3 linked regions of the Homo sapiens genome follow. The protein of the gene in region 2 purifies or fractionates together with the protein of the main gene of each other region. This does not show direct contact. Each region holds a gene or a part of one and is shown on either strand. Other genes may lie near its edges. The genes, in order: VWA8, FOXRED2 and ZNG1A.

Region 1 (3,540 bases), on a different chromosome or scaffold from region 2:
TGTATCTTTAGTAGAGATGGGGCTTCATTATGTTGGCCAGGCTGGTCTTGAGCTCCCAATCTCAGGTGATCTGCCCACCTCAAAGTGCTGGGTCTACAGGCGTCAGCCACCGTGCCTGGCTTGTTTCTTTTTTTTTTTTTTTTTTTGAAACGGTGTCTTGCTCTGTCGCCCAGGCTGGAGTGCAGTGGTACATTCTCAGCTCACTACAACCTGCGCCTCCCACACCCAAGCGACTCTCCTGTCCCAGCCCTCCGAGCAGCTGAGATCACAGGCGCATGTCACCATACCCAGCTAATTTTTTGTATTTTTAGTAGAGACAGGGTTCCACCATGCCGGCCAGGCCGGTCTCGAACTCCCGACCTTGTGATCTGCCAGCCTCGGCCTCCCAAAGTGCTGGGACCACAGACGTGAGCCACCGCGCCCGGCCTGTTTCTTTTTTTTTTTTTTTTTTTTTTTTAGTATTTATTGATCATTCTTGGGTGTTTCTCGGAGAGGGGGATTTGGCAGGGTCATAGGACAATAGTGGAGGGAAGGTCAGCAGATAAACATGTGAACAAGGGTCTCTGGTTTTCCTAGACAGAGGACCCTGCGGCCTTCCTCAGTGTTTGTGTCCCTGGGTACTTGAGATTAGGGAGTGGTGATGACTCTTAAGGAGCATGCTGCCTTCAAGCATCTGTTTAACAAAGCACATCTTGCACCGCCCTTAATCCATTTAACCCTGGGTGGACACAGCACATGTTTCAGAGATCATGGGGTTGGGGGTAAGGTTATAGATTAACAGCATCCCAAGGCAGAAGAATTTTTCTTAATACAGAACAAAATGGAGTCTCCCATGTCTACTTCTTTCTACACCAACACAGTAACAATCTGATCTCTTTTCCCCACATTTCCCCCTTTTCTATTCGACAAAGCCGCCATCGTCATCATGGCCCATTCTCAATGAGCTGTTGGGTACACCTCCCAGACGGGGTGGCAGCCTGGCAGAGGGGCTCCTCACTTCCCAGACGGGGCAGCCGGGCAGAGGCGCCCCCCACCTCCCTCCCAGACGGGGCGGCTGGCGGGGCGGGGGCTGACCCCCCACCTCCCTCCCGGACGGGGCGGCTGCCAGGCGGAGGGGCTCCTCACTTCGCAGACGGGCAGCTGCCGGGCGGAGGGGCTCCTCACTGCTCAGACGGGGCAGCCGATCAGAGACACTCCTCACCTCCCAGATGGGGTGGTGGTCGGGCAGAGACACTCCTCAATTCCCAGACGGGGTCGCCACCGGGCAGAGGCATTCCTCACATCCCAGACTGGGCGGCCGGTCAGAGGGGCTCCTCACATCTCAGACGATGGGCGGCCGGGCAGAGACACTCCTCACTTCCTAGACAGGATGGCGGCCGGGAAGAGGCGCCCCTCACTTCCCAGACTGGGCGGCCAGTCGGAGGGGCTCCTCACATCCCAGACGATGGGCGGCCAGGCAGAGACGCTCCTCACTTCCCAGACGGGGTGGCGGCCGGGTAGAGGCTGCAATCTCGGCACTTTGGGAGGCCAAGGCAGGCGGCTGGGAGGTGGAGGTTGCAGCGAGCCGAGATCACGCCACTGCACTCCAGCCTGGGCAATGTTGAGCACTGAGTGAGCGAGACTCCGTCTGCAATCCCGGCACCTCGGGAGGCGGAGGCAGGTAGATCACTCGCAGTCAGGAGCTGGAGACCAGCCCGGCCAACACGGCGAAACCCCGTCTCCACCAAAAAATGCAAAAACCAGTCAGGTGTGGCGGCGGGCACCTGCAATCCCAGGCACTCTGCAGGCTGAGGCAGGAGAATCAGGCAGGGAGGTTGCAGTGAGCCGAGATGGCGGCAGTACAGTCCAGCCTCGGCTTTGACAACTTTGGTGGCATCAGAGGGAGACCGGGGAGAGGGAGAGGGAGACGGGAGAGGGAGAGGGAGACGGGAGAGGGAGAGGGAGGAGGGAGAGGGAGACGGGAGAGGGAGACGGGAGAGGGACAGGGTTTTCTAGATATACAATCATATCATTGGTAAGCAGAATGACCGCTTTTAGAGTGCTCCCTGTCCCCAATTTTATGTGTAATTCATTTCACACACTTAAGCCTGCAACAGAAAAATGCACATCACAATTTTAAGTCACTTTCCTCCATCGTTATTGACGTGAGTACAATGTTTTTAGTATTATACCTTTGTTTATTGGAAACTCAACTCATTCCTTATTTTCCTCCTGTGTCATCTGCATCCTCCAATGTGATACCAAGTTTTATATTTTCTTATATTTTCTCACTTTAAGTGGAAGTGCAAGCTTCCACTTAAAACTAAGTGCCCACTGTGATAATTTTGGAATGATATCCTATATCTAATGAAATTCTATGCCAGATAACAAATATCACTGTATACTGTTGTCACTCAAATATGCAAATTAAATAGAACTAACTTAGAATGTACTACTCATGGGTAATAATTGGTATGTATGCATGCTCATGGTCAATAGAAAAATAATCGTATTTGTTAAAAAAGAAGTTTCTCAGCCATGGCTTTTGTGCAACTTCTTTTACCTCCAGACAATGCATGCCCACTCTCAGTTCTGCATGAGTGGGGACCACACGTTAGAAGGGACAGAACATGCCATCAAGGAAATTGTCAAAGAAGAAGCTGATGAGTACTTTGTCATAGTCTTGAGTGATGCAAATCTGTCACGATATGGAATACATCCTGCTAAGTTTGCTCAAATCCTCACAAGAGACCCTCAAGTAAATGCTTTTGCCATTTTTATTGGCTCTTTAGGTGATCAAGCAACCAGGTAAGTGTCATCTGAGCATACAGAAAAGGGCAGGTACAGAGATACTGAGTAGCTAACACATGCTGTTTTATAGGCTTAGCACCATGAGGGACAGTGAGGCAGATGGAGGAAAAACAGAAACTAAAGTTACTAGCCTCAAGGGGTTTATAATCTAGTTGAGGGGATATGTTCTAGCTTTTGTTTAGATGAACAATAATAATTTTAAATTAATTATTTTTTAGTTTATATTTAAGCCACTAATAAATCATTGACAAATTGATTTGTCACTAATAAACCGGGTAGTATTTTATACATTTGGCACTTTATGTCAAGCTCCTAAGCTCAGGCTAATCATTTTGTGTTCAAATCATATTAAAAATCGTGAACATCTACTATTTTCCTAGCATAGGAGATAGTGTGTGTGTATGAATGTCTGTACATATTAGACATATATATACACACATATGTATTATATCCCCATAGAGACATCACCTACATATATGCATGCCTGTATATATATATAGACACACTCACATGTATCCCTTCTTATTGCTGGAGAGACAAGGCAGGTGAAACACTTGGCGACAACATAAGATAATATACATATAGTTAGATACTACACTGAATATACTAAATATTCAATAGAGAATCTTATGATCAGACAATAAATACCAGTGGGTATGATCTGAAAGGAGAGATCTGGAAACACTTTCATAACTTGAACACAATAACATTTATCTTTTTGAATTACAAACAGAAAGAGCTCATGGTTTT
Region 2 (3,653 bases):
CATGCCACCACACCTGGCTAATTTTGTATTTTTAGTAGAGACTAGGTTTCACCATGTTGGCTAGGCTGGTCTCAAACTCCTGACCTCAGGTGATCCACCCGCCTTGGTCTCCCAAAGTGCTGAGATTACAGGCGTGAGTCAGCACGCCTGGCACCCCTGTCTCAACACCCCACATGCAAACCATGGGCAAGTCTTGTCACCTCTGCCTTCAGATGATGTCTGGAGCCCAACCAGCTCTCACCTGCTCTACCACCACCACCTCGGTCCCGATCACCAGGCTGTATCACCTGCACCCATACAACAGCCGCCCCACTTGGCCTGGCGTCTGTTCTCAGCACAGTAACCAGAGTGGTCCTTAGAAACCTGAGGCATGCTGATCCCAGCTCTGCTCAGTCCTCCCAAGCAACCAGCAGTGTCACCTCTCGGGCCAGACGACTCCTCACGTCTCGTCATGGGAGGCGCAGCCCTCCTTGACCTCTCAAGGCCTCCGGCCCCCTCTCCTGCCCTCTGCCTGCTGTTCACTCCCCTCAGCCACGTCGGCCTCTTCTGTTCCTTGAACACAAAGTGCTCACATACTCCTCAGGGCTTTTTCCTGACTGTTCTCTCTGCCTGGGACACTCTTTCCCCAGATATCCCATTCAGGTTACATGGAATTTTCTGGTCTCTACCCCACATGTGCGTGAGAGCTGAGCTGAAAAAGTAATGTTAAGTGAGGGGTGTGCTGCTTGATTGACGCTCCTTAGAGGGGGAGATACACACGCACACACACATGCTCACCCCCGGGCTGCACCCCTCACCTCTGCCACAGCACTGAGGGCCTCCCCCGCGTTGCTGTTCTCCCAGGAATTCCACGGCCTTTGAGTACCTGGAGGAGTTCCCCATACAGATGCTGGCCCAGCTGGAGACACTCACAGGGAGGAAGGCAAAGCACGGGCTCTTCGTCATCAACATGGAATATGGCAGAAATTTCTCTGGCCCCGACAAGGACGTCTTCTTTGATGACCGGTCTGTGGGGCACACAGAAGATGCCTGGCAGTCTAACTTTCTTCATCCTGTCATCTACTACTATAGATACCTCCCCACCGGTGAGCAGGTCTCTGCCCTTCCCCAACCTGTGGGCTCCTCAGACCTCACCGTCTGCAAGGTTGTCACCCACCCTGAAACCTTCACACACATGCTCAGCTGACAGGTGGGATGGCTGCGGGACTCTGCCTAGAGACCACTTGGGCAGAAGGTCCGAGAATGATGAACGATGCTTCCAGATTCTGACACATACCGTGACTGGCACAGGCCATGCGGGGGGTGTCGTGCTCTCCGCCAGGCACTGTGTAGTAAGAGGGACACGGCCCTGCTGCAGGTCTCCAGAGGCGGCTGACTGTGGTGGGGCGGGAGGGGTCTGAAGAGTAGAGGGAACTGGAGCTGGTTAACACAGTACAGAGAAACTGGGCAAAATCCCTAGGCCTGTCATTTTGTCACTGTGTGACCTTGGACCATTACTTAACCTCTCTGAGCCTCAACCTCCCCTCTGTAAAATGGGGATTACAACAGTACCTTTCTTGTAGGGTTCCATGAGGTTAAACCTGACAGTGTACACAGAATGCCAGCCCACTGCAGGCACAGAGTAGCTACCAATAAGTGAACAACCTCGGGAACGCACCCCCTGCTTCAGAGCTTGAAGGGCAGTCAGGTAGAAGAGGGTGGTTTAAACAGGGGTTGTTCCCAAAGGCAGAAGTCGTGTCAGCAGGTAGCAGTGACGGGTGCAGGTCTGTGGTCAGTATAAGGAGGCACTAAGAGGCTGGGCATGGTGGCTCATGACTGTAATCCCAGCACTTTGAGAGACCAAGGCAAGCGGATTATAAGGTCAGGAGTTCAAGACCAGCCTGGCCAAAATGGTGAAACCCCATCTCTAAAAAAACATGAAAAAAATGCAAAAATTAGCTGGGCATGGTGGCACATGCCTGTAATCCCAGCTATTCAGGAGGCTGAGGCAGGAGAATTGCTTGAACCGGGATCCGGGAGGCAGAGGTTGCAGTGAGCCGAGATTGTACCACTGCACTCCAGCCTGGGCTACAGAGCAAGACTCTGTCTCAAAAAAAACAAACAAACAAACAAAAAGGCCGGGCGCGGTCGCTCACGCCTGTAATCCCAGCATTTTGGGAGGCCGAGGCGGGCGGATCACGAGGTCAGGAGGTCGAGACCATCCTGGCCGACATAGTGAAACCCCGTCTCTAATAAAAATACAAAAATTAGCCAGCGTGGTGGCGTGCGCCTGTAGTCCCAGCTACTAGGGAGGCTGAGGCAGGAGAATCGCTTGAACCCAGGAGGCAGAGGCTGCAGTGAGCCAAGATTGTGCCACTGCACTCTAGCCTGGGAGACAGAGCGAGACTCTGTCTCAAAAAAAAAGAAAAAGGAGGCACTAAGAGTTAAAGCTGTTCAGTGGGGGAATTGGTCACCTCCAAATTCAGGTTTCCCAGAATAGCGACGGCCAAGTCTTGACTCGATGGCCATCTGACTGGAACACCACAGAAGGGAGCCCACACCAGGGAGAAGCTGAACTAGATGAGTGCTGAGACCCCTCGCCTCTATCTGAGTCTTCTCAGAGAAAGGCCAGTTTGAAAGCAGCCACAGCCAGGCGCAGTGGCTCATGCCTGTAATCCCAGCACTTTGGGAGGCTGAGGCGGGTGGGTCACCTGAGGTCAGGAGTTTGAGACCAGCCTGGCCAACATGGTAGAGACTAGAAACCCCATCTCTACGAAAAATGTAAAATATGAGCTCGGTGTGGTGGCGGGCACCTGTAATCCCAGCTACTCTGGAGGCAGAGGCACAAGAATCGCTTGAACCCAGGAGGTAGAGGTTGCGGTGAGCCTAAATTGTGCCACTGCATGACAGCCTGGGCAATAGAGCGAGACTGTCTCCAACAAATAATAATACAAAATAAAAAGCAGCCACAGTAGATCTCAGTCCATGTGAGTCTTAGGGAAACGCCAGCCTCACGTTGTTAGCTTCAGCACTGCCTTCCGAAACCACAAGGGAAAAGCCTAGTTCCTCTTCCTCATGGCAGCCTTTCAAATATCTGCAGGTGGCTCTTGAACAGTCTGACCACAGCCCAGCATAGGAGGCTGTCGGGAAAGCCGAGCACGAGTGAACGAGGGAAGTGTTTGGGCTGTGTGGGATCCGTGCTGTGTCGGCCCGAGGAGGGGAAGCCCAGCCTCACAGCTCTGACATGGCCCCCTCTCTCCTCCCCACAGAACAGGAGGTGAGGTTCCGCCCTGCACACTGGCCCCTGCCTCGGCCCACGGCCATCCATCACATCGTGGAAGACTTCTTAACAGACTGGACTGCCCCGATCGGGCACATCCTACCTCTGAGGCGCTTCCTGGAGAACTGTTTGGACACCGATTTGCGAAGCTTCTATGCAGGTAACTTAAGCTCCCAGAAAGACAAAGGGTCTGAGCTCCAGGTTGAAGAAAGGTCACAGAGACCCAAGACCCGTGGAGTTTCAGGACCCATATCTGGAAATCCAAACCCCAGACTACTGTTCCCGACAATGCCGTGGGTTAAATTACAACTCACCTAAAAATAATGGATAATATGTCTTCTTTTTTTTTTTTTTGAGATGGAGTCTCGCTCTGTTGCCCAGGCTGGAGTGTAGT
Region 3 (3,653 bases), on a different chromosome or scaffold from region 2:
GATCTATTTAAAATTTGGATGTAGGTATTTAGGGGGAGTAAAGATGAATGAACAAAATTGATCAGTGGCTCTCAAATCAGGGTGCTTTTCTCCCCAGGGAATATTTGGCAATGTCTGAAGATGTTTTTGGTTGTCTTAACTAGGGGAATGCTACTGGCATCTAGTGGGTAGAAGCCAGGGATGTTGTTAAATATCCTACTCTGCACAGGGCAACCCCCTCACAACAAATAATTATCCAACCCAAAATGTTATTTGTGCTGACACTGAGAAAACCTGAACTACATTTTAGAATCTCCCTTCTTCAAAATCTAATAAAACAAAAAATAAAAACAAAAAATAAAACAAAAAGGCCAACATTTTATTAGCAGCAACCAAATATAAAAGGGCCTGCCATAAATTTTGAAGACTGATAGTCAAAATAAGAAACAAAGTTATATGTGATTGATGGTCATTCCCAACTCTACCCCTACCTCCAATAAGAGGTTGTAGGGAAATAGTTTACAAAATCCTAAACACTTACCAGAAATACACTCCAAAATGACAAAAAGTAGAGCCGAGGAATGAATAAGCAACACAAGGAAAAGTCAACAAAAAAATTTCAAGAGTGAGTTTTAACCATCTCTTTGCTTTGGGAAGGAGAAGGTCAGGTCACATTCTAGGGCTCAGAACAAAGAGAAATGAGAGCTCTGAGGTCGAATGATGTCCCCATACAAGGCAAAGGAATTTTATTCATAAGCAGTTGGGCAGACCCAAGAGTGAAATACTTGGTACTTCAAGAGAGCAGAGCCTAAAAGCCACATTGCCCCATTTGGCTCTCTGAATCACCACTTTTCCCTTCTCTTTCCCTCCACTCCAACAATATACAGCTTTCAAACTAGGGCTCAGGAGAAAAACAAACTTGGGTAAGGAGAGTGGAGTATTAAAAATATTTCCCATCAGCACCACATAGAAGTTCTCCCACATCAAGAAGAAACATGTATGCATATGTATTACAGCCTGACAAAAAGAAACACGCACATACAGGGAATAAAAAGCAAGAAAGAACACAAAATGAAGAAATGAATAGGGCACACAAGTGGCAAAGAACCCATTCTGGAAGGATACATAACCCAATAAAAACTAAAGAAAATTCTCAACAACTTCATCATAATGAAGAACTTGAAAACAATACAACCTTATAATAAACAAGCTCAAAAGCAAGAAGAAGCAGAATAAGATGAAAATGCGTTTGTAGCGCTAAAGAAACTTAGAGCCTATATAACACAATGACTTAACCAATTAATTCATTTAAAATATCAAAAACAGGACAGACACTGGAGAAAACAGAATTATTGACAAAAAGAAAGGCTTCAGATGATCACAGTAAATGCAAAGGTAAAAGACAAATCAAAGCAATTAGAATACATACGAACAACAAAAGAAAATTCAGTATTAAAAAAACTGGTGTCATGAAGTAGAGGATCTAATAATTTGACCAAAAAAAAGTATTCATGGTAATAAACAAGGAAAATGTTCTTAGAAGAACTAAGGGCATACTATAATTTAGGGAAAAATGATTATAAGTGACACTTAGATATACCTTGTTTATATTACTGAATTTCAAAAATAAAGAAGAAAACTCTCAGGCATTTTAGATTAAAAAAAAAAATTGCCTTCAAGGAGGTAGGGAGAAAAATCAGACTTTTCTACAGTAACACTAGATGTCCCAAAATAATAAAACAGGGACCACAAAGTTCTAATGAAAGTGTTCCCAAACAAGTTATTTTTCAGGAACGAAAGCAATAGACAGACATTCTCAAGCATTAAAGAAAACAGCAAGCATTGAAACTCAGAGACTATAATACTCACAAATTCTTCCTAATAAAAAGAGAAAACATTGGACAAAGAAATCCAGCCAATCAAACACTAGGAGATTATGGAACAACATTTACAAAGTTGAGGGGGAATAAAGTGTGACTGATAAATTTTATACCTAGCCAAGTAATCCTTCAAGTAATATAAAAACAAAAGACAAATATTTTGAATCAATGAAGTGTATAAGAACCCAAAGAATGCATGCAGTACCTGTAACTTGAAAAGACTGCCTGACAATGAAATTCAATCAGGAGATGGACTAACTCGGGAATGGAGAAGCAACAGTACTGGTAATAAGCACCAAAACTATTAAAACATAGAACTAAAAGAATTATGACAGAACCATGACAACATAAAGAATATGATCAACATGAAACTAGGCCAATTAATATCCTACAATGGCCTGTAAGTGTTCAAGTGAAAGGAACAGTCACCTGTTTCTCACTTTAAATCAAGAGCTAGAAATGATTATGCTTAGTGAGGAAGTTATGTTGAAAGCCAAGATACGCCAAAAGCTAGGTCTCTTGAGCCAGTTAGCTAAGTTGTGAATGCAAAGGAAAAGTTCTTGAAGGAAATTAAAAGTGCTACTCCAGTAAACACACAAATGATAATAAAACAGCCTTATTGCTGATATGAAGTGGTCTGGATAGATGATCAAACAAGCCACAATGTTCCCTTAAGCCAAAGCCTAATTCAGAGCAACCCTAACTCTCTTCAGTTCTATGAAGGCTGAGAGAGGTGAGGAAGCTAGAGAAGAAAAGTTGGAAGGTAGCAGAGGTTGGTTCACAAGATTTAAAGAAAGAAGCCATCTCCATAACATAAAAGTGCAAGGGAAAGCAGCAAATGCTGATATAGAAGCTGTAGTAAACTACCTAGAAGATGTAGCTAACATCATTCATGAAAGTAGCTACACTAAGCAACAGACTTATTTTTTATTTATTTATTTATTTATTTTGAGATGGAGTCTCGCTCTGTCACCCAGGCTGGAGTGCAATGTGCAATCTCAGCTCACTGCCACCTCCGTCTCCCGGGTTCAAGCCATTCTCCTACCTCAGCCTCCCAAGTAACTGGGATTACAGGCTCCCACCACCAAGCCAGGCTAATTTTTGGTATTTTTAGCTGAGATGGGGTTTCACTATGTTGGCCAGGCTGGTCTTGAACTCCTGAACTCGTGAACTGCCCACCTCGGCCTCCCAAAGTGCTGAGATTACAGGCATGAGCCACCGAGCCCGGCCAGCAACAGATTTTTAATGGAGATGAAATGGCCTCCTTTTGGAAGAAGATGCCATTTAGGACTTTCATAGCTATAGAGAAGTCAATGCCTGGCTTCAAAGATTCAAAGGACAGGCTGACTCTCTTGTTAGAGGCTAAAGCAGCTGGTGACTTCAAGTTGAAGCCAATAATCATTTACTATCCTAAAAATTCTAGGGCCATTAAGAATTATGCTAAATCTCCTCTGCCTGTTTTCTATAAATAATAAAGCCTAGATGACAGCACATCTGTTTACAGCACGGTTTAGTTTAAGCCCACCATTGAGATCTACTGCTTAGAAAAGAAAAGATTCCTTCAAAATATTATTGCTCATTGACAACGCACCTGATCACCCAAGAGCTGTGATGGAGATGTACAAGATTAATGTTGTTTTCATGCCTGCTAACACAACATCCATTCTGCAGCCCACTGATCAAGGAGTAACTTTGACTTTTAAGTCTTATTTAAGAAATATATTTCATAAGGCTATAGCTACCATAGACAGTGATTCCTCTGATGGATCTGGGCAAAGTAAATTGAAAACCTTC

What was found.
Region 1: the proteins of FOXRED2 (region 2) and VWA8 purify together in Homo sapiens (affinity purification with mass spectrometry; one large-scale study listed by BioGRID and IntAct). This does not show direct contact.
Region 3: the proteins of FOXRED2 (region 2) and ZNG1A purify together in Homo sapiens (affinity purification with mass spectrometry; one large-scale study listed by BioGRID and IntAct). This does not show direct contact.

Annotation. Positions count from the first base shown.
Region 1 is NC_000013.11:41,569,715-41,573,254, reverse strand, and holds part of VWA8 (von Willebrand factor A domain-containing protein 8 isoform a precursor), read left to right. Parts: intron 1-2,548; coding exon 2,549-2,787; intron 2,788-3,540. UniProt on the Homo sapiens protein: Exhibits ATPase activity in vitro.
Region 2 is NC_000022.11:36,493,399-36,497,051, reverse strand, and holds part of FOXRED2 (FAD-dependent oxidoreductase domain-containing protein 2 isoform 1 precursor), read left to right. Parts: intron 1-797; exon of another isoform or gene 798-843; coding exon 844-1,085; intron 1,086-3,248; coding exon 3,249-3,419; intron 3,420-3,653.
Region 3 is NC_000009.12:165,463-169,115, forward strand, and holds part of ZNG1A (zinc-regulated GTPase metalloprotein activator 1A), read right to left. Parts: intron 1-3,653. UniProt on the Homo sapiens protein: Zinc chaperone that directly transfers zinc cofactor to target metalloproteins, thereby activating them.